2 separate regions of the Homo sapiens genome follow, and region 1 is linked to region 2. Evidence: fine-mapped expression QTL. A gene starts in region 2. The other region holds a variant in brackets. All regions are shown on one strand. Distances are from middle to middle.

Evidence for each region. PIP is the estimated chance that this variant, and not a neighbour inherited with it, causes the effect.
Region 1: its variant is fine-mapped to the expression of SNED1 in whole blood (TOPMed, PIP 0.97).

What each region holds. Positions count from the first base shown.
Region 1 is chr2:241,058,017-241,067,571 of GRCh38, reverse strand. SNED1 (sushi, nidogen and EGF like domains 1) reads right to left here. Exons shown (of 32, transcript NM_001080437.3): 17 at 4,668-4,781; 18 at 3,872-3,985; 19 at 3,447-3,560; 20 at 2,615-2,728; 21 at 1,977-2,273. SNED1-AS1 (SNED1 antisense RNA 1) reads left to right here and starts at 3,454. Exons shown (of 3, transcript NR_187212.1): 1 at 3,454-3,492. It also overlaps a transcript of MTERF4 not described here. RefSeq lists a silencer at 3,346-3,505. The variant G/A (reference allele first, on the strand shown) is at 3,860.
Region 2 is chr2:240,993,877-241,003,431 of GRCh38, reverse strand. SNED1 (sushi, nidogen and EGF like domains 1) reads right to left here and starts at 4,814. Exons shown (of 32, transcript NM_001080437.3): 1 at 4,382-4,814. The coding sequence starts at 4,594. RefSeq lists a silencer at 4,763-5,182.

The DNA of each region.
Region 1 (9,555 bases), 64 kb before region 2:
GCAGAACCCGCTGTGAGCATGACGGCTGCAGAGCCCGCTGTGGGCCAGCCCGTCTTACCAGAGGCAGGGGTCTTAGTCTCCATTTAGATGTGGCAGTGACATGGCAGGGGATGGGCCGGAGTCCCTCTGGACATGAGTAACCCGGACCTCCCCTTTTCTGTGCCAGTTGACTATTTTGGTCTAAGAGCACACATCCGGGCCTGGTCTGGGCAACGCTGTCTTAGGAGGACAGACATACAGAACTCCCAGCAACTGCAGGGAAGGGGCCACTTGTGAGCTCCGCTTCCCGCCCAGCCAGTCTCCTCCGAAGCTCCAGTGCCACTGCTGATGCACCAGGCAGAGCCCAGAGGGCAGCGCTCAGCTCCCGGCAACTCAGCACCCCGGTCTGTGGACAGCGGTCCCTTCCACCCACCATGGCTGGCTGGAGCCCCAACTCTGCAGCGGGCAGGGCGGGCTCTGTCTTCACTCCAGATACCTTCCGAGGGCAGATCTCACATGGGGCGGCCTTGCAGGTGCTTCTTCCTAAAACAGCCCAGGCGAGCCACCCCTACTCAGCCCCTGGCAGCTCCTGCTGACACCTGCTCAGTGCCACCCGCACATGCGCCCAGGCTCTCCACTGGCCGAGGTGTGCTCTGTGTCCTTGCTGTGTTGGGAACTCCAGCCCCTTGGTGGTCAACTCCTGCAGGACAGGCCCTTGTGGGCCTCTGGGTGGGCTCAAGCTGCCTTGAATGCCTTCTCCTGTCCCTCAATGCCCTTGGCATTGGCATCAAGCTAGGGCCCAGGTGTGGCCAGGAGGCTTTCCTCCTGTGAGAACCGCCGAGCTCCTCCCCACCTACCCGCCATGCTACCCATAGGTTTCACCAAACTCACGTGGCCGCCCCGCAGGGCCCTGCTGGATGCTTAGGCCTCCCTGAAGCCCTGGCCACCCACCCACCCATCCATCCATCACGCCACTTCGCAGCAGTCTGTGCTCTCAGCACCTTTTCCTCTTTCCTCGAGCCTCTAGCACCCCTTCCCCATTCTTGCTCCTGTGTCTGGAGGCCACAGGCATGTTGGGTGAGAGTCCCATGGCCCCATGGCCCTGCACCCCACTTGGTTCCTGCCCAGCCTGTTCCGAGATCCCCTGTGCTCTAGCTGATGCGGCCGGGCTCCGTGGAAGGCCAGCCCTCTGCTTTCTTCCGGCCCTGCCCCTGTCCGTCCACTGCCATGTTCTAGGGCTCCTTTCTCCTTCCCAGAATCCCTCCCAGCAGCACACAAGCCCGCTAAGCCCTGACGCCTTCCCTAGAGCGCTCAGCATCTTCTGCTCCCCGACACGGCAACAACCCCACAGGCTGTGCACAACCCGGGCCTCCCCTGCAATCTTGGTGGCTCAGGCTCTGAGGAGGCTCCTCCTAGGACCCCCTCTTCAGGGGTCACATCTGGTCACAGCTTTCAGTGCCAGCTCCAGGTGGAGGCTCTGGGTCTGTCATTCCATCTAGGGCCTGCCCCACGGCTCTTCCCGATTGAGCCACCGATGCCTCCCCTTAGCACACCTCAGCGCCTACATATCCCTGTGAGCAGGTGCCTCTTTCAAACTCTCCCCAGGCCTTCAGAGCACCCCAGAGTCCCAGCCCCCCCAAGCCCACCCCCGCGGCCCCTGTCTCCCACACTGGCTCCTTCTAGGGACCCTTTTGGGAAGCCCCCATTCCTCCCCAGTCCCACTTCCTAGCTCCATGCCTGGGGGTTGTGCTGCTCCCACTCTTGGCTCGATTCTATGCGCCCCAATCCCATGCCTGTATCTTGTGGACCCAAGGCCACTCCCACACAGCTCTGTCTCCAGCAGGGCGGTGCCTCCAACCCCCAGCTCAGCTGTCTGTCTTGCTGCTGCAAGAACTAGGAGGGTGGACGGCATGACAGCCGCCCTGCAGGTGCCGGGGCCAGCGCTGCCCTCGAGGGGCAGGGGCTGGGCAGGGACGGCCAGGCTCGGGGACACTCACGCGTGCGGGCCAGCAGCACGGCAGGCCTGCTGATGTCATTCTTGTTGTTACTGTTTCGCTTCACTGAGAAGACGGAGATGTTGTAGGCCCTGCCGGCCGCCAGGGCCTGGAGCTGGTGCGAGGAGCGGGTCCTGTCCACAAAGTCTGTGCGGCGGTAGGAGCCGTCGGAGGAGACGTAGGTGACCGCGTAGCCATCAAGCATCTGCCTGGCGGCTGGACCATTGGGCGGGTTCCAGGAGATAGAGACCCCACTCTCCTCCACTCTCTCCATCTTGAGGGCCGTCGGTGGGAAGAGCTCTTCAGGGTTTGGGTCAAAACAAGGGGAGGGGACTGGTCAGCCGTTAGCTATGCATGCCTGGCTCCCGTCGGCGGCTCAGCCGGGTCTGGCTCTTGGGCCTGACACAGCCATCGCTGGCAGAGTCCTTCTTTGTCCCTGGCCACGTACCTCCAGGAGGGTCACACTTTTGAATGTGTGACCGTGTTTCAAGCCCACCGGGGGATTTTATCCCCTCCCTGTTCCTCAGGGAAGGGGCCTGGGCAAGCAGCGGCCAGACGCTCTGCCCTTGGAGACCGTTGGGCCCTCTAGGGAGAGGGGACCCCCTCGTGGCTCCCTCACTGGAGGCGCCCTCGCCACCCACCTTTGGCGCAGTCCTCGCCCGTGTAGCCCACTTTGCAGGTGCAGCTGTGGGAGCCGTTGCTGGCCAGGCAATAGCCACGGCCCCCACAGGGGCTGGAGAAGCAGGGGTCACTCACTGAGGGGAGAAAAAGTGGCAGTGTATGTTGGGGCGTGGCCAGGGGTCCCTGCTCCAGCCCCGCCCTTGCTCCTGGGGCACTGGGTCCCTCCTGCGTGGGTGTGGAGGGGCGGGGGGCACAGGACAGCTACTGCCTCCCTTCGGTTCTGCCACCTCCACTGCCCTGCGGGGCCCAACCCAGCAGCTCCTCCACCCTCCACAGCGGAGTGCCACCAGCCGGACTGGCTGAGGGGAGGAGACACTGGATCAGGACAGGACAGGCCACCACCCCAGTGACAGTCCTGCTTGAGGAGGGGAGGTCAGTGGTCAGGGAAGCCTCATCAGGAGGTATCCCACTGGGGGCTGATTAGGGAGAATGTTCCAGATGGAAGGACAGCCAGGGGCCAGACCTGGGTGTGCAAGAAACTTGGCCTGTCCAAGGGCAGCAGGGCCTATGTGTGGACGTGAGGCCCCACCCCTGGGTGTGTCCTCGGGTGAAGAGGGGTGTCTGGGGGGTGAGCGCAGGAGATGGGGAGGTTTAGAAGGCACCATTGTGGGACCAAGGGAGACAGGCGGAGGGCCACTGGCCTGAGAAGGGGACTTCCAAGGCGGCGGGCAGAGGGCGGGGAGCAGGCGGGCAGAGGGCGGGGAGCAGGCGGGCAGAGGGCGGGCAGCAGGCGGGCAGAGGGCGGGGAGCAGGCGGGCAGAGGGCGGGGAGCAGGCAGGCCTGCCGCCCTACCTGTCTCGCAGTGGTAGCCGAAGAAGCTCTCTGGGCAGACGCACAGGTAGGCCCCGCCGCCGCTCTCACACCGGCCTCCATGCTGGCAGGGGCTGGAGTCGCAGGCGTCCACCTCTGGAGAACACCCAGAGAGTGGGCCCAAGCTGCAAGGGGGGAGTCTGGGGGAGGGAGGAGAGGACAGCGGGAAGAAGGGAAAGGAGGAGTCTAGGGGCGGAGGCCAGGAGAGAGGGGCAGTGGGCAGGTCCCGCCCCTCAGCCCTCCCCAGCACCCTCACCTCCACCCCTCCCTCCCAAGGTGGCCGCAGCCCTGGGGGTCCCTCTCCCCAGGTGGCCTGCCCAGCAGGGAATGTGGGGATGCCCCACCTCCTCTCTGATCTTCCAGAGGCCCAGGCTCTGCATGTGGGGCCCACTGGA[G/A]GGAGCCCCTACCTGTCTCACAGTGGACTCCAACGAAGCCTGCAGGGCACCGGCAGACATAGGCCCCTGGGAGGTTCCTGCAGGACCCTCCATTTCTGCACGGGTGAGCTCGGCACTCATCCCTCTCTGCACAGAGAAGGGGTGTCAAGGGTGTTGCTGGCTCAAGTCTGAGGCGCCCACATGCCCCCAGGATTCCGTGCATTTCCTGGGGCTTCAGTTACCCCTTTCCCAGCTGGGAGCAACTACTCAGGACATGTGCTTTTTCTTCCATCAGCCCCAAACCCACCCCTCCTCGGGAGGCGTGCCACCTCCACTGCCTGCTGGCAAAGCCCCACCTCCAGGCCATGCCTTCCTCCAGGCCACTCCGCAATGGGAGGCTCCCCAGGGCCACGACTGGGCACGGCTCCCTGGGCCTTGCCCTCCCTGGAGCCTGCGTTTCTCAGGCTTAGAGCCCTAGCGAGGTACAAGAGTGTGCAGGGCTCATGGGGCAGGCCTCCCCTCCCTCCACTGGCTGGAAGCACCGACCAGGTGTCAGAGACTGTGACCTGCCCTCTCCGACGCCCACCTTCTCTGCGCCCTGAAGCCAGGCCAGCATTTCTCAGCTGGGCTCTCAGTCTCCCCTGGGGAGGTGCAGGAAGGGATATTTGTAAAATCTTTGTCTTGGATGTCAGAGCTGGCAGGGGCCCGAGAAAGCATGCAGTGGCCACCCTGGCCATCCAGACAGAGACCTGTCCGGGGGACCCAGTGCCTCAGGCACATGGCCAGTGTGCTGCAGCTGTCACCCCAGCGGGGCCAGGGCCCCTCTTACCCAGCTCACAGTGGGCGCCCTCATAGCCTGTGCTGCAGAGGCACAGGTACCCAGCAACGCGGTCCTGACAAGAGCCCCCATGCAGGCACGGCTGAGACCGGCACTCATCGATTTCTGAGAGGAGAGAGCCCAAGAATAAAGCAATGTGGCCACGATTAAGCCAAATTAAGATGCACATAAACTAGTCCTGAGGGGCCAGACAGAATTCGATGATACATCATCAGTGGTTGGAAAGGCCAGAGACCAGGGCTGGATATCCTTGGAGTCGGGGCAGGGCAGTGGGCCTGGGGCTCAGTGCCTGGCTGTGTCTGTGAAGCAGCAGGGCGGGCTTGAAACCACCCCAGGGCTCCCAGAAGACGCTGTGGGACTTAATTCCAGTGGTTCAGGCCGACAGGACAAAGGCCTCAGGGGTTTGACAGAAAATGTCTCATGTCCCATCTTGCCATTTCAATGTATAATAGTCACCTGTGAAACCAGTCCATCTGGGACAAATCTTGGTTTTAAATGATTCACCACAGCTTTCTTTTCAAGCGGGAGTTGTGCTCCTGAATTTAAATATTTATTTTTTTAAAGTTTAATTTCATGCTTAAAAAGTAAATAAATGGTAATGACTTAGTGACATCTGGGACTAGCAGCCACCCCGGCAGCCAGAATGCTGAATGGGCTCATCCGACCGTGTACCCTTCTCTTCCCTTGCGATAAGAATCTCTGGGTTTATAATTTCCTTGTCTTTAAAAACTAGGTTTTCTGGCAGTAAAATATGTAATTAAAATTAGCTTAAAAATTTTATAAATTGCCTAAACAATAGTGAATGTTTTTGTTGTTTATGAACTTTATTCATAGTACATCATGATATATATTGTCTTCTCTCAGCATTATATGAAGAAGAGAACTCCACACTGTAGGTCACTGTGGTTCATAGATTTTCACTGCTGAATAACATTACACAGTGTGGTTATATCATACTTCACCCATTCTCACTGGCTGGGTCTTTGGGTTGGTTCTAGACTTTTTCCTTTTTTTGTTTTCTTTTTTTCTTTTTTTTTTTTTGGGGGGATGGAGTTTCGCTCGTTGCCCAGGCTGGAGTGCAGTGGCATGATCTTGGCTCACCACAACCTCCGCCTCCCGAGTAGCTGGGACTAAAGGCGCCCACCACCATGCCCGACTAATTTTTGTATTTTTAGTAGAGATGGGGTTTCACTATGTTGGCCAGGCTGGTCTCGAACTCCTGACTTCGTGATCCGCCTGCCTCAGCCTCCCAAAGTGCTGGGATTACAGGCATGAGTCTACGCCCAGCCTAGACTTTTTGCTTTTACAAAAAATGTTGCTGTGTATATTCTTTCCCATCTCCTGGTGCAGACGTGAAGTTTTTCTTAGGTTTATACCCAGAAGTGCAATTGCTGGAACACAGTTGACGTAAATGAGCAACAGTGGGCAGATTGCTCAACAGGCAGAGTGCCACATTGTTTTCAAAGTGCTTCTAGCAATTTATACTCTTGCCAGCAATGCATAAGAAATCTTGTTGATCCACATTCTCACCGGTATAGGCTTTTCAGACTTCTGAAAATTTACCAGCTGAATGTACCTCATTGCACTTTTGATTTGCATTTCCCTGATTACTAATGAAATAGAATATTTCTTTTTATGTTTGTTGGCCTTTTGTATCTCTTCTTCCATGAAATGCCTATGCATGTTTTTTTTTCTATTTTCCTATTAGGTTGTTTTCTCATTGATTTATCAGAGTTCTTCATGTAGTCTTGAGACTATTTATCTCTTCTCCCAGTTTGTAGTTTAGATTTCACTTTCTTAAGGTTTATGGATTTAGGTTCTAATTTTCATATGGTCAAGTATGTTCATCATTTCTTTTTAAATTCTTTTTGTGGCTTAAGGAGTCTTTCACTACCCCAAAGTCAAAAATATATTTACCTATATTTTCCACACAAAATTATATAGTTTTTTTTGGTTGTTTTTTTTTGAGACAGGGTCTCACCCTGTCCCCCAAGCTGGAATGCAGCGGTGCAATCACAGTTCACTGCAGCTTTGAACTCCGGTTTCAAGTGATCTTCCCACCCTAGCCTCCTGAGTAGCTGGGACTACAGGTGCATGCCACTACGCCTGGTTAATTTTAGTTTATTTTTGTAGAGTTGGGGGTCTCTCTATGCTGCACAGGCTGGGCTCAAACAAAACTCCTGTCTTGGCCTCCCAAAGTGCTGGGATTATAGGCATGAGCCATGTGCCCGGCCCTGTATAGTTTTTTTTTAAAGAAACATTTAGGTCTTTAATCCACCTGGATTTAATTCCAGTGTATGAAAAATAGAGAACCAATATAATATTTTTCCAAGTACAAAACCATTGTATTCCAGCTCTCATGAATATTTTCTCATATGCTTTTGTATTTCTTTCTTTTAGAAGTTTATAGTTAGGGACGGGCATGGTGGCTCGCGCCTGTAATCCAGCACTTTGGGAGCCCAAGGCGGGTGGATCACCAGAGGTCAGGAGTTCAAGACCAGCCTGGCCAACATGGTGAAACCCCGTCTCTATTAGGAATACAAAAATTAGCTGGGTATGGTGGTGAGTGCCTGTAATCCCAGCTACTTGGGAGACTGAGGCAGGAGAATCGCTTGAACCAGGGAGGCGGAGGTTGCAGTGAGCCGAGATTGTGCCACTGCACTCCAGCCTGGGCAAGAGTGAGATTCTGTCTCAAAAAAAAAAAAAAAGTTTATAGTTTTAGCTTTTACATTTATGTTTATAGTTCCTTTTACGCATTTAAAAATTTATCATGTTTTTGATGCTATTAATGTAACACTTTCATTTCAAAGTGTTCACTGCTACAACAGGTTCTATATACTGACCCTGTATCCTGGGATCTAGTTGAATTCACTTGTTAGTTCTATAGCTTCTTTTGTAGAATTTCCTTAGGATTTTCTATGCATACAATCATGTGATCTCTAATTCTTTCTTCCTTTCCTTCCTTTTATTTCCTTTTCTTGTCATCTGGCACTGTCTAGGGCCTCCAGGAAAATGCTGGGAATACGTACTGAATGGACACCTTGCCTTGTACGGATTCCAGGTGGAGTCTTTCACCACTGAGTACACTGGTAGCTGAGGTTTTTAATGGATGTCCTTTATCAGGTTGAGGAAATTATCTTCTACTCTTAGTTGACTAAGAATTTTAAATACCAGTTGAATTTGTCAAATAATTTCCTGCATCTATTGAGATATATAGTTTTCTCTTTCATCTCCTAATATGATGAAGTACATTGATTGACATTAAAAGTTAGACCAACCTGTGTCCTTGAGAAAAATCCCACTTGGTCATGACTGTATCATTCTTTTATATAGTACTGAGCTTGACTTAGTAATATTTTGTTTGGATTGTTGTGTCTATGTTCTTGAGAGATACCAGTCTGTAACTTCAAATTTTGTAGTGTCTGTGTCTGGTTTTGGTATCAAGGTGAGTTGAGAAGTTATCAAATAAGTTGGGTATCAATTGAGTTTGGTATCAAATGAGAAGTGTTCTTCCCTCCTAGATTTTCTAAAAAATATGTAGCTCTTTCTAAAAGAGGTTGTACAAAGTTGGTATCATTCCTTTCTTAAACATTTGGTAGAATTCATCCGTGAAGCAATCTGACACAGCTGTTCTGAGGAAGGTTTTTAATTACAAATTAAGTGTAACAGATATAAGGCTGTATATGTTTTCTATTATTCTTGTGTCAGTTCTGGTAATTTGTCTTTCAGGGTATCCATTTCCCCTAAGTTGTCAGATACATTGGCCTAAAATTGCTCATAGGTGTTCTCTTGTCCTTTAAGTACTGGCAGGATCTTTAATGTTTAAAGGACTCCACTGTAAACACGAGGTAGGATCTCCTTTTCTATTTTGATCTTGCTAATTTCTCTCTTTTTTTCCTGATCAGTCTAGCTAGGGTTTATCAATGTTAATGATTTTTTTTTTTTTGAAACAGAGTCTTGCTGTGTCACCCAGGCTGGAGTGCAGTGGTGCGATCTTGGCTCACTGCAAGCTCCGCCTCCCAGGTTCACACCATTCTCCTGCCTCAGCCTCCTGAGTAGCTGGGACTACAGGCGCCCGCCACCTCGCCCAGCTAATTTTTTGTATTTTTAGTAGAGACGGGGTTTCACCGTGTTAGCCAGGATGGTATCCATCTCCTGACCTTGTGATGTGCCTGCCTCGGCCTCCTAAAGTGCTGCGATTACAGGCATGAGCCACCGCGCCCGGCCCAATTTTAATGATCTTTTCAAGGAAATAGCTTTTGGTTTCATTGATCTTTCTCTGTATCTGTCTTTTTTATAATTACATTTTCTAATTGTTGGTTGCTGATACATAAGCACATAATTAATTTTGTTGTAATCTATATCCACTAAACATGTTACATTAGGCTTTTCAAAGAACTAATTTTGGCTTGTCCTTTCTTTTGTATCTTGGATCTCTACTTCATTAATTATGGCTTTTACCTTTATTCCTCTTTCCTTCTACTTTTTTCAGCATCATTTCGTATTTTTTTTCCTAACTTCTGAAGTCAGACATTTAATTAATCAAGTTTGAAATTTTCTTCTTTTCTAACATTGGTATTAATGTCAGTTTCTTAATTTTTGCTTTATATATATTGAGATTATTGTATTAGATGCTTGAATATTTATAATAATTGTATCTTCTTCGTGAACGGAACCAATTATCATTGAGAGACACCCTCTCATTCTTAATGATGCTTTTCGTCTTATACTCTTCTTTTTCTGATAGTAATATAGCTAATACGCCAGCTTTGATTTGTATACACCTATTTTTTTCCTTTCACTTTCATTCTTTGTATAGTCTTATGTTTTAGGAATGTCTAAGAGTGCTAGCTTGTTTTATACCACATCTGGCAATCTC
Region 2 (9,555 bases):
GGAGGACTTACTGCTCAGGGTGCAGGCATCTTGCTGCATGCATCCTCTGGCCTCAGCAGGGGTGGAAGAGAGAGTCCTTCACCAGGGCACCACCACCACTGCAGCCCCAGGCTGTCGTCTGAGGCCTATTCTGAGCCCAACACCAGAATGGTGGCATGAGGATGGATGTGGTCCCTGCCTTCATGGGGTGCACATCCCAACACCTCCCAAACAAGAAAACTAAGGAGCAACCCAGCTGAGGTCAGAACCAACAAGCTGCAGTGAGCACAGAGGGTGGGGCTGGGGGAGTGCCTGAGCGGGGGGCCCGGGGGAGGGCGGAGGGGGGCAGGGAAGCGTAGCGGGGATTCTGGCGAGGAGAGACAGGATCCCACTGGTGTTTTGTATGGCTCCCTTGGTCACTCTGCACAGAGGAGGGCAGGCTGGAGGGAAAGGCCAAGAGCTGGAGGTCAGCAAGGGGGTGCTGCAGGTGTCCAGGCAAGTGGGGATGGACAGCTGGGAAGTGGTCCAAGTAGAGAGGCAGGCGGAGCTGCTGCTGACGTGGAGGGTGAGGGAGAGGAGGGAGGCATTGGGGAGGCTCTCAGGGGTTTATTCATGGAGATGGGTGGGCGCCAGGGAGGAAGCAGGACTTCTGTTTGGGTCCCACTGAGTTTGGGGTGGCACAGTAAGAGGCAGCTGGACGCAGGAGTCTGAAGGCCCCTGAATCTGCATTCTGAGCCTCGGTTTCCTCATCTGCACTGGGCATGACGTCCTGCTCCATCCTCTCAGGGGCTGCCTGTGAGGTCCAGGCAGATCACAGCTGTCCTGGGCTCATGGCCTTGACCTGGAGTCATCAGGCTCTCTCACTCCAGCATCCTCCTCGACTCCAGCCCCATTCCACTTCCCCAGGATCCCCTTCCATCTGCTTCCGTCACACCCAGGCAGCAGCAAGAAGGGCATGCTGATGAGGGGCAGGACCACCTTGGCCAAGCCCATAGCAGGGGGTGGGCCAGCCCGGGAACCTCAGTGAATAGGGCAGCCAAGGGGAAGCCCAGGACCCTCCTCCCAGCCAAGGGGCTCCTGCATTTGCTGGGGTGTTCCATGAGCTCAGAAGAGAGCAGAGATGGCAGTGATTTCTCCCCACATGTCTGCTCCCAGATCCACTCATGCGCAGGCCTCGGTCCCACTGAGACAGTCCCTGTGGGTCAGGGTGGATTTTCCAGATGGCTTGGAGCTGGCGACCACACAACCGTGACAGTGATGGGGTGTGTCACAGGTATGACCTGATGGGGGAGCTTCACCACACAGATGGGGAGACAGAGGCTCAGGGAGGAAATGACCAGGCAAAGGTCACAGGCTGCATGTGAACTCCCACACCAGAGCAGCTGCCCTGGGCTCCGTGTTCTGGGAGGGGTAGGGCCGGGACTGTGCCTGGATGGTAATGTTGTGCAGAGCCAGAGCCAGCAGACTTGCGGTGTGGCACGAAGCCTCAGGGCACAGAGTGGGGGTTTAGCCAGCACCAGCGAGGGTCAGTCTGACTGTCCACATTCCTCCTTCTTGCCTGCGGGCTCTGCAGGGCACCACCCACTCTTGACCCTCAAATCCTCCCTGCCTCTGCTCAGGGCTCTGTCGGGGGTCCTGATGCCAAAGAAACTGAGATCCTCCCATGGCCCAGAGACCATGCTGTGGATGGGGGCAGTGCTTGGAGCCAGGAGCTTCAGTGTAGGGGGCACCAGGAAGATTTCGTCTCTCATTCCCTGCACCTGCCCCTAGGAAACCACTCCACCTGCATAAGCCCCACAGACCGCGGCAAGCTCCGTCTTAATGCAGACACTGGCAGTTCCTGCATGGCAGGATAGCGGCAGCATGCCACACTCCTCAGCACGCCACACTCCTCGGCGCGCCACGCTCCTCGGCTGCATTATCTTTGTCTGTGTGTAGAACCTTAGCAATAAAATGCACTTTCAACACTTTTCAGAGCCTTACGACTTACCACACACATACAGCTACTATGACATGAGAAAGAAGCAAAACAATGGGTCCCTTCTGGAAAGGGGGCCACTCCATGTGTGGCAGAGCTGTCTTGCTAGGGCAGTAATCCATGTGCTATTTCTGATGAAGACAGAAGAAGCACCCATCTCATGCAAGAGCACTTCTAATTTCTACCTGTGACTTGCAGGCAGTGTCAGAGGGAGGCACATTCATTCATTCAGACAACAAGCCTACTCTTGGTCAAGCGACAGGCTGGGGGCGGAGGAGCGCAGAGGTCACTGCAGTGGGATGGGGGCTGGAGGGTCCTGGCTGGGCCTGACATGGGAGTCTGAGTCCAGGGCCAGCAGACACGAGGCCCCTATAGACTGGAGCTGGACAAGGGCCAGAGCCAGGGGCCTCAGAAGAGGGTCCGCTCGGCCTGGGTGGGCGTGGGAGGCCCCAGGCAGGTCCACTTCCTTCAGAACAAATGCCTCCCTTCTTTCCACCTGGCTTCAGCCCTAACCTGCTGCCAAGCACCCCTTTCTCTCTCCCTGCTTGACCACAGAGTCCGCACAGTTACTTCAGGCAAGGTGTCCTGGGCAACGCAGCCTCAAGCCTCCTGCTGAGCAAACAGAAAGGTGAAGTGCACTGCAGGCACTGTGTCCACATCGGCAAATGGTTTTCAAATAATATCTTTGTTTCAGGAAAAAGCTCCGATGGAGATAAATGTTTTGTTAGCAGCCAGAAGGTTCATTTCTGACGAAACCCTAGTTCTCCTAGCAGATCTTCCCACGTTAGAGCTGTTTCCCCTAGTTGCTCTGGCAAGGGCAGATGTTTTTGGTGAGGCTGTTAAGTGGGTTAACCATTTTAATAATATTTTCACCTGTGACTGTGAGTGGGAAAGCTGAGCCTGGCCCAAATGCTTAAGGAGCCTCTTGAGTTCTGTTCGGATGGTGCCAATGTGAGTGTCCCATACCTCAAGTGGACAGGCCTCCTCCAGCTCGGGCCAACGCTGAGCACCATTCTGTCCTACCCACTTCGTACTTCCAGGAGTCAGTCCCGTTCCTCTGTCCAAGTCCCGGTCCAGAGGGACTTTCAGGGGGTAGCACCGACAGCATGGCTGCCCCTCCCACCAGTCAGGTCACCCAGTGCTGCCACCGAGGTGGGGAGGCCTTCCTGAGCAGGTGTGGAAAACGCAGTGGGCGCTGTGGATGGTGTTGGCAGTTGTGGGGTGGGAGGCGCACTAGAGGGCATGTGGTGGAGGAGGCCCTGTGGATGGAGGTGGGGAGGGATGATGACAACCATGCAGAGGATGTGGATGGTGACGACGGGAAGCTGGGGACCATGGGGAAGGTGGTGGTGGAGGCAGTGCTGCTGGTGGTGGGGTTGAAGGAGGTGGTGTTGACGGAGGAGTTGGCAGTACAGGTGGTGTTACTCCGGGCAGCACAGATGGCAGAGGCGATGTGGCTGGCAGTGGGTTGAGGCTGGAGGTGGGCGAGGGTATGAGAGGGCTGATGGTGGAGGTGGCCGTGGTGACGGAGCTGGAGGGGACTCTACTTGAGGCTGGCCCAGCAGTTTTCTAGATATGATCTGGGGTGTTTCAGGGAACCACCAGGTACCAGTGCACCGTGGCCTACTCAGGGCGAGTGCTCCATGCAGTTACCAGGTGCATTTCATTCCCTGGGCTGCCATAAGGGCTTGGCCTGGGGTCACACTCTGGGAGCCATGGAGACAGAACCGGCACTCGGGCCTGTTCCTTCAGCTGAGCTGAGCCTGCTGTCATGAGTCCCTGGCCCCAGGAGTCCCACTGGGAGTCCTGTTTGGAGAGTCTGAGCCTGAGCGGCCAGCCCCCAGACTGCGGAGAGGACGGCAGGGAGGGGCAAGCCTGTTGCTAGCCCGCCTAGGAGGGTCAGCGAAGAAGCAGGCCCTGCCCTGAGCGCCTGGGCAAGGGGTCCAGCCTCCTGGCTCTGGGCCGCACTGGCGTCCACGGGGGGCGGGGCTGAAATGGCCCAAGGAGGGGCTGCAACCTTCGCAGGCCCGGCGCCCCACTTGGGAAACTGAGGCCCGGGAAGCCCGTGCCCACGGCCACATTGCCATGTGTGAAAACCAGGGCAGTACCAGGACCCCTGCTCTCCCCTGGGAATCAGGCGCCGGGAAGACGCGCTCGGCAGGTCTGGCAGGGGCCGGGGCGCCGCGCTCCACTCGCCCCCGCCTCGGTGCCCGGCGGCTGCCGCCCCCGCCCCGCCCGCGCGCCTCTCCCGCGGGCCGCTGTCCGGCCTTGGCCGCCGAGGAGGAAGCGCTGTCCTCATTCCACCTCGGGCCGCCCCGGTGCCAAGTGGCTGGCGGCGGCGGCGGGAGTCCGGGCCCGGCGGGCAGCGGCCGGGGCGCAGCTCCCTCCCCTCCCGGGCGCCCCGCGAGCCCGGGGGTTACTCACGTAGAGTCCGGAGTGCTCGGCACCGAAGAACGGGAAGGGCACCGAGAGCGGCCGCAGCCCCGAGCCGCCGTCGTCCTGCTTGGGGGTGACGGCGTCGCCGCGCTCGGCGCCGAACGGGTAGAAGTCGGCAAGGGCCACCGCGCCGCGCACCCCGCGCGCCCCAAGCCCCAGGGCCGCGGCCACCAGCAGCGCCCAGGCGACGCCGTGCCGCATCGCGGAGGTGTGCGGGCGGGACGGGGCGCTGGCGGAGCAGGGCGCTGGGGGACTAGGCTGCGCGCGGGGGTGGCCGGCAGGGCCAGGCGGGGTGCGGGGAGCGCGGGCGCGCCCGCTGGCCGCGCCGTCGGGGGCTCCGCGTCCCGCGCCCGTTCGGCCGGGCCGCGCTCTCGCCGCAGCTCCGCAGAGGAAAGCGCCGGGCGGGACCGCGTTCGGGGCCAGCCCCGCCCCTGGGGCCACGATTTAAATATCCAGCCCGGCGGTCACTCGGGGGGGCGGGGCCATGCAAATCGGGCGTCTCTTAAAGCGCCAGGCCCCGTGGGAGGGCGCGGGCGCGCGGGGAGCTCAGTCCCCTGGCGTGGGCACAGGCAAGGTGAGGGCTCTGCGGGCGCGCGCCCTGTGGTGGGGCCATGCTCCGCCCTGGGTCCCTACCCTGGTGGAGGCGCCTGGGCCCTCAGTGCCGTCCTGGGACAGACCTGTGTCCCTAAGGCCTGAGACGCTGGGCCCGCCCTGAAGGCGTGTCATCACGCGGGGGGCGGGAGGGGACCCTGGCCAGGCAGTGCCTGAATGAACCCGTTCCGTGCTGCCCCCTTCCCAGCCCTGAGCATGGGGACGCCAGGCTTCCAGCCACAGGGGCAGACTAACCCCGGAGCCCACTCCCTGCCTGGGTCTGTGTGAGGAAGAGCCCGGGCCGGAGACTAGGAGGCATGGAACAAAGTGTTTGCATCTGCGTGGCCGCATCAGGAGAAATTCCTGGGAGGCTCGGGACCTCGGGGCGACCCCTGGGTAAAGCAAACCCTCCGTGGGGAAGACTGACCCACTCAGGCCCTGGGGGCAAGTGCGTGCATGACACCGGCCTTGGCAGGTGGGGGCAGGACTCTGAGTCCCAGTATTTGAATTCAGGGTCCCCACCCTGTGGCCTGCCAGCCCTGCCCCCTGTCTCTTGGGCTGCTGGCCTGGGCTGCCTGTCTGTCCTTCCTCAGGGCCTCAGCCGGGACCACCTCTATGTCCCCAGGCCCATGGCAGGGTCTGATTCCTGGAACTCACCCGGCCCACCGTGGTCTCTTCTCTTAGATCCTGGTGTTGGGTGGTGTTGGCTGCGTGCCACACTGGGGCCCCCAAAGATAAGAGTGCACCCCTCGAAGACAAGCAGGAAAGGCCGGGCTGATGGTAACTGCATCTACCACTGAGGTGCTGGGTGGTTTTTTGTTTGTCTTTGCGTTTGTATCTTCTGAAATATCTCAAGTGAGCACGTGTTGTTTTTCAGTGAGAGCCAGGCACAGTCAATGTTATTTTTAAGAAGCAGCGGAGGGTTCTCTGCGTGTGACTGGGTGTTGCCGGTTCTCACAGATCCTGCACTTGGTGTTTTCACTCAGAGGTTCATGACCCTTTAGACTTGGTGTCAGGGCCGGGTGCAGAATTGTTAAGGAGGAGCTGACCCTGCACTGGCACCTCCTGAAAGCTTGCCCCTGGCGCCTCTCCCACCCTGCATGGGGTGGCAATTCTGTTTGCAGAGAGGCAAACTGGGCCTGGGAGGGGAAGGGCTCTGTCCCGCAGTTAGCCCTTAGGTCACCGTCCCAGCTTTCAGAGCTCCAGGACAGCAGCACAGCCATGGTTCCAGGGCCAGAAAGGTCAAGGCCTCCTGTCTTTGGAGGGAGGCACCAGAGAGGGCGTGGAACTGTAGAATCCCTACTTGAGGCCGGCTCTCGGTGAGAGCCTGGCAAGGAGAGACATGTCTCCACGCACATGCACACACGTCCACGCACACATGCATACTTATTCACATGCACGGAGGCAGCATATGCCCATACGTGGGGCCTCAAGAACATGCTTTAACCCCTTCCTCAGCCCAGCCCTGGCCTCCCTGGTCAGGGAGGGCTGCTCCCACCTCTGGCTGGCACAGGCCGTGGAGTCAGGACAAGGCCCCATGTAGCAGCGTTGGGAACAGAGCTGCCAGGCGTCACCGTGGCGGGAATCAGGGAGAACGCTTTTCTATTTGTCTTTTTTCTAGAAAAACCTGGCAGCCCTCTACCCTCTTTTCAGTGCATTTGGGGCCTGGCTGGAAGGCCCCTCCGGTGAGTTTGCGAAGGTGGGAGGCGGCAGTGCCAACCCCAGGGCAGGATTTCTCCGCTGAAGAGGTGTTGTCATGGGGACGTGAGGCTTTGACCCCCACTAGGGCTGGCCCACCTCCTGCCCTGTCCCTACTACCCATCCACTTCCCACCACATGCTCCTGCTCTGCTCTCAGAGCCCAGCCTGGGGTGCTGCCTCCCAGCCAGCTGCCCAGGCCAGGCGCCCTTCTCCCCACTGCTGACCTTCTCTTGAGCACACAAGACAGGGACCTGGGTAACAACCCATTTCTGGGCTGGGTTTGGGTCAACTTGGGGGCAGGGCCGCCCAGGGCACCTTGGGGCACACAGTGGCACTCAGTGGCTGCACCGAGTGGAGGCCTGTTTCTTCAGGCGGGTGGGCTGGTGGGCCTCACGGGGGTCGCTGAGCAGTGCTGGAAACGCTCAGGCCCGTCCTCGTCCCAGAGAGTCAGAGCTCATGGGCCTGGGGCGTGGCTGGCAGTGGGCCAGACCCTGCTCATGGCCCAGAGAGGCCACACTTCCTCGGGCCTGTACCCTGCTGACCAGCCTCGGCCTGCACCCTGTGCAGATTTTCAGCCGGGCCCGGGGAGCTGGGGGTTAACAAAAGGCCCCGCTGCTGCTGGGCATTACATTTCATTAAAAAAAAAAAAAACAAAAAAAAAACAACACAACTCTGCAGGCAAAAAAGAGAAAAAAAAATGTTTTTCTCAGGTGCTAAAAATATTATCAGGAAATACTTTTCAGCAATGTGCTGTTTTAGGCTCCCCTCTGGACTCAAGGGCGCCTTTGTCTCTGCCACAGAAAATCCACATTTATCAAAACCAAAATTGTTTTATCAAGCAGGCTCATGTTCTGTGGCCAGGAAACCCGAGCCTCCCCAACCGGCCTGTGACATTTTAATTTAGGGCCTGAGCGTGTGTGCAATTTAGATGGGGTGCCCCGGGAGCTGCCCTCAGGATGCCCCAGGACTCGGGGCTCCACGCAGGCCAAGGTGGGGGTGCCCTCCCCAACCTGCACCTGGTTGGCTGGGCCTGTTTGGTCTTCACAGGGTGGAAGATCCTGGGGGTTCAGGCCTGAGCTGCCAGGGGCAGGGGCTGGCTGGCTGTAGCCCACCCTAACTTTCTCTCCTTCTCTCCCAGAAGTGGCAGGTGGAGTGCAGGTCCCCTGCCCCAGAAGCGCTGATCCCAAGTAAACCTCCACATGCTCCGGAATGAGGCCAGGAGGTCACAGGGACCAAGGGCCGCTCCACCTGCTCACCTGGTCACTGTCCTGTGTGGCTGGTTGGGGTCTTGGTGCAGTTGGCCCTGAGGGAGTGTGGGGGCCATGCAGCCTGCCCTGTACCTCCTCTTCTCATGCACACGGAGCCGCACACACATTGACTCCCATGACGGGACTTCTGTGGTTGCTCTTAGGGAAACGATGGGACTGGGGTTCAACACTTCCTTCCCAGGATGTTCACTGCTGCGTGGGCTCAGGCATCGGCTCTCCCTGTCCTGGGGATGACGAGACCCTGCCTCCCGTTGAGAGCCTTGTCCATCTCCTGAGTGCCCAAGACAGGACAGAGCCCCATTCTCTGTGGGCTCCAGGATGGCAGGGACAGCCAGCAGTGGAGGGACACTCAGGCCCAGGGTCCTCCGATGCCCCGGAGCTTCCGCAGCAAAAAAACCATGCTCTGAGACGTTTTTAGTGATTCGGGAAAACTCTAACGGTATTGTGTCAAGCAAAAGTTTTAAAAAATAGTACTCTGAGTAGCATCCACGCTATGGCCTCAACCGTCCTAAGCACACGTGTGCTAGAAAAAGGGAGAGTTGGGTGTCACCTCGGGGCTCTGCAGGTCACAGATTATGGTGGTGGTTACATTCTCCTTTCTATGTTTCCCTGCTAACATTTTTTGCAATTAATTTGAAAAGTATGAATGTTTTGGAAGCCCAGATAAACAATGCCCTTGGTTCCAGCTGGCCGGCTTCCTGCCCCGGCTTCAGCCAACCAAAGCTTGTGCTTCCCTCAACCTGGGGTGCTTCAGAGGGCTGGCCTGTCCTTGGGTGCCGCCGTCTGCGTTCAACATGGCCCCTCCTCCAGTGCCCCCTCCCCAGGGGGCCTTCCTCTCCCATTTGTCCCCTCCCTGTGTTGGTCTGCAACCCCTGGATGCCTGCAAAGGGTGCTGCCCCCGGACCCAGGCACCTGAGGGCCTGTCAGAGCGTCGGAGCTTCCTGGCCAGAGGCTGGATGGGACCCTCCAACAGCCCCTGCGTGCCCCACATTCCTCGGCGAGCCTCAAGGGTGGCAGGAATCCGAAGGGATTTTGTGTTCTGTCTCAGACAGGAGCTGGGCCCCTGCCTGCATCCCTGCCTTGTGTGGGGGAGGGTCTCCTGGCTTTCGGAAACCTCAGGCACATTTATCACCTCTGCCCACCGGAGAGGGCAGGCAGAGGAAGAGCCAGACCATGGAGGCCTCCAAGGTCGCAAGCGTATGTGTGGCTCCAGCTCCATGAGGTGGTTCTGGGGGTCCATCCCCTGCAGGGACAGGCCTGAGAGCCACCTCTGAGTTTTCACTGACACCCAGACTCTCTGTGGGTTCTAGAGGTAGACCCTGAGAGTACCCTCCCCTTGGGAACATCACGGATCTGCGCCGCCTCCACCAGGCTGGCCTCAGGGGCTGCTCCCTCGAGTACCCTGGCCCTGCTGGACCGTGGCTGGGGATGGCAGCAAGGAGATGGACATGGCACTCCCAGAGCCGTGGCTGCTGCAGGTGACAGTGCCTCCACCGTTAGCTGAGTGCTTCTGGCCTCAGCCTGGGCGATACTTCACGTAGGACACACCATGGCCCTCTGGGGCTGGGGTCACCCCACTTTATAGACAGGGAAACCAAAACCT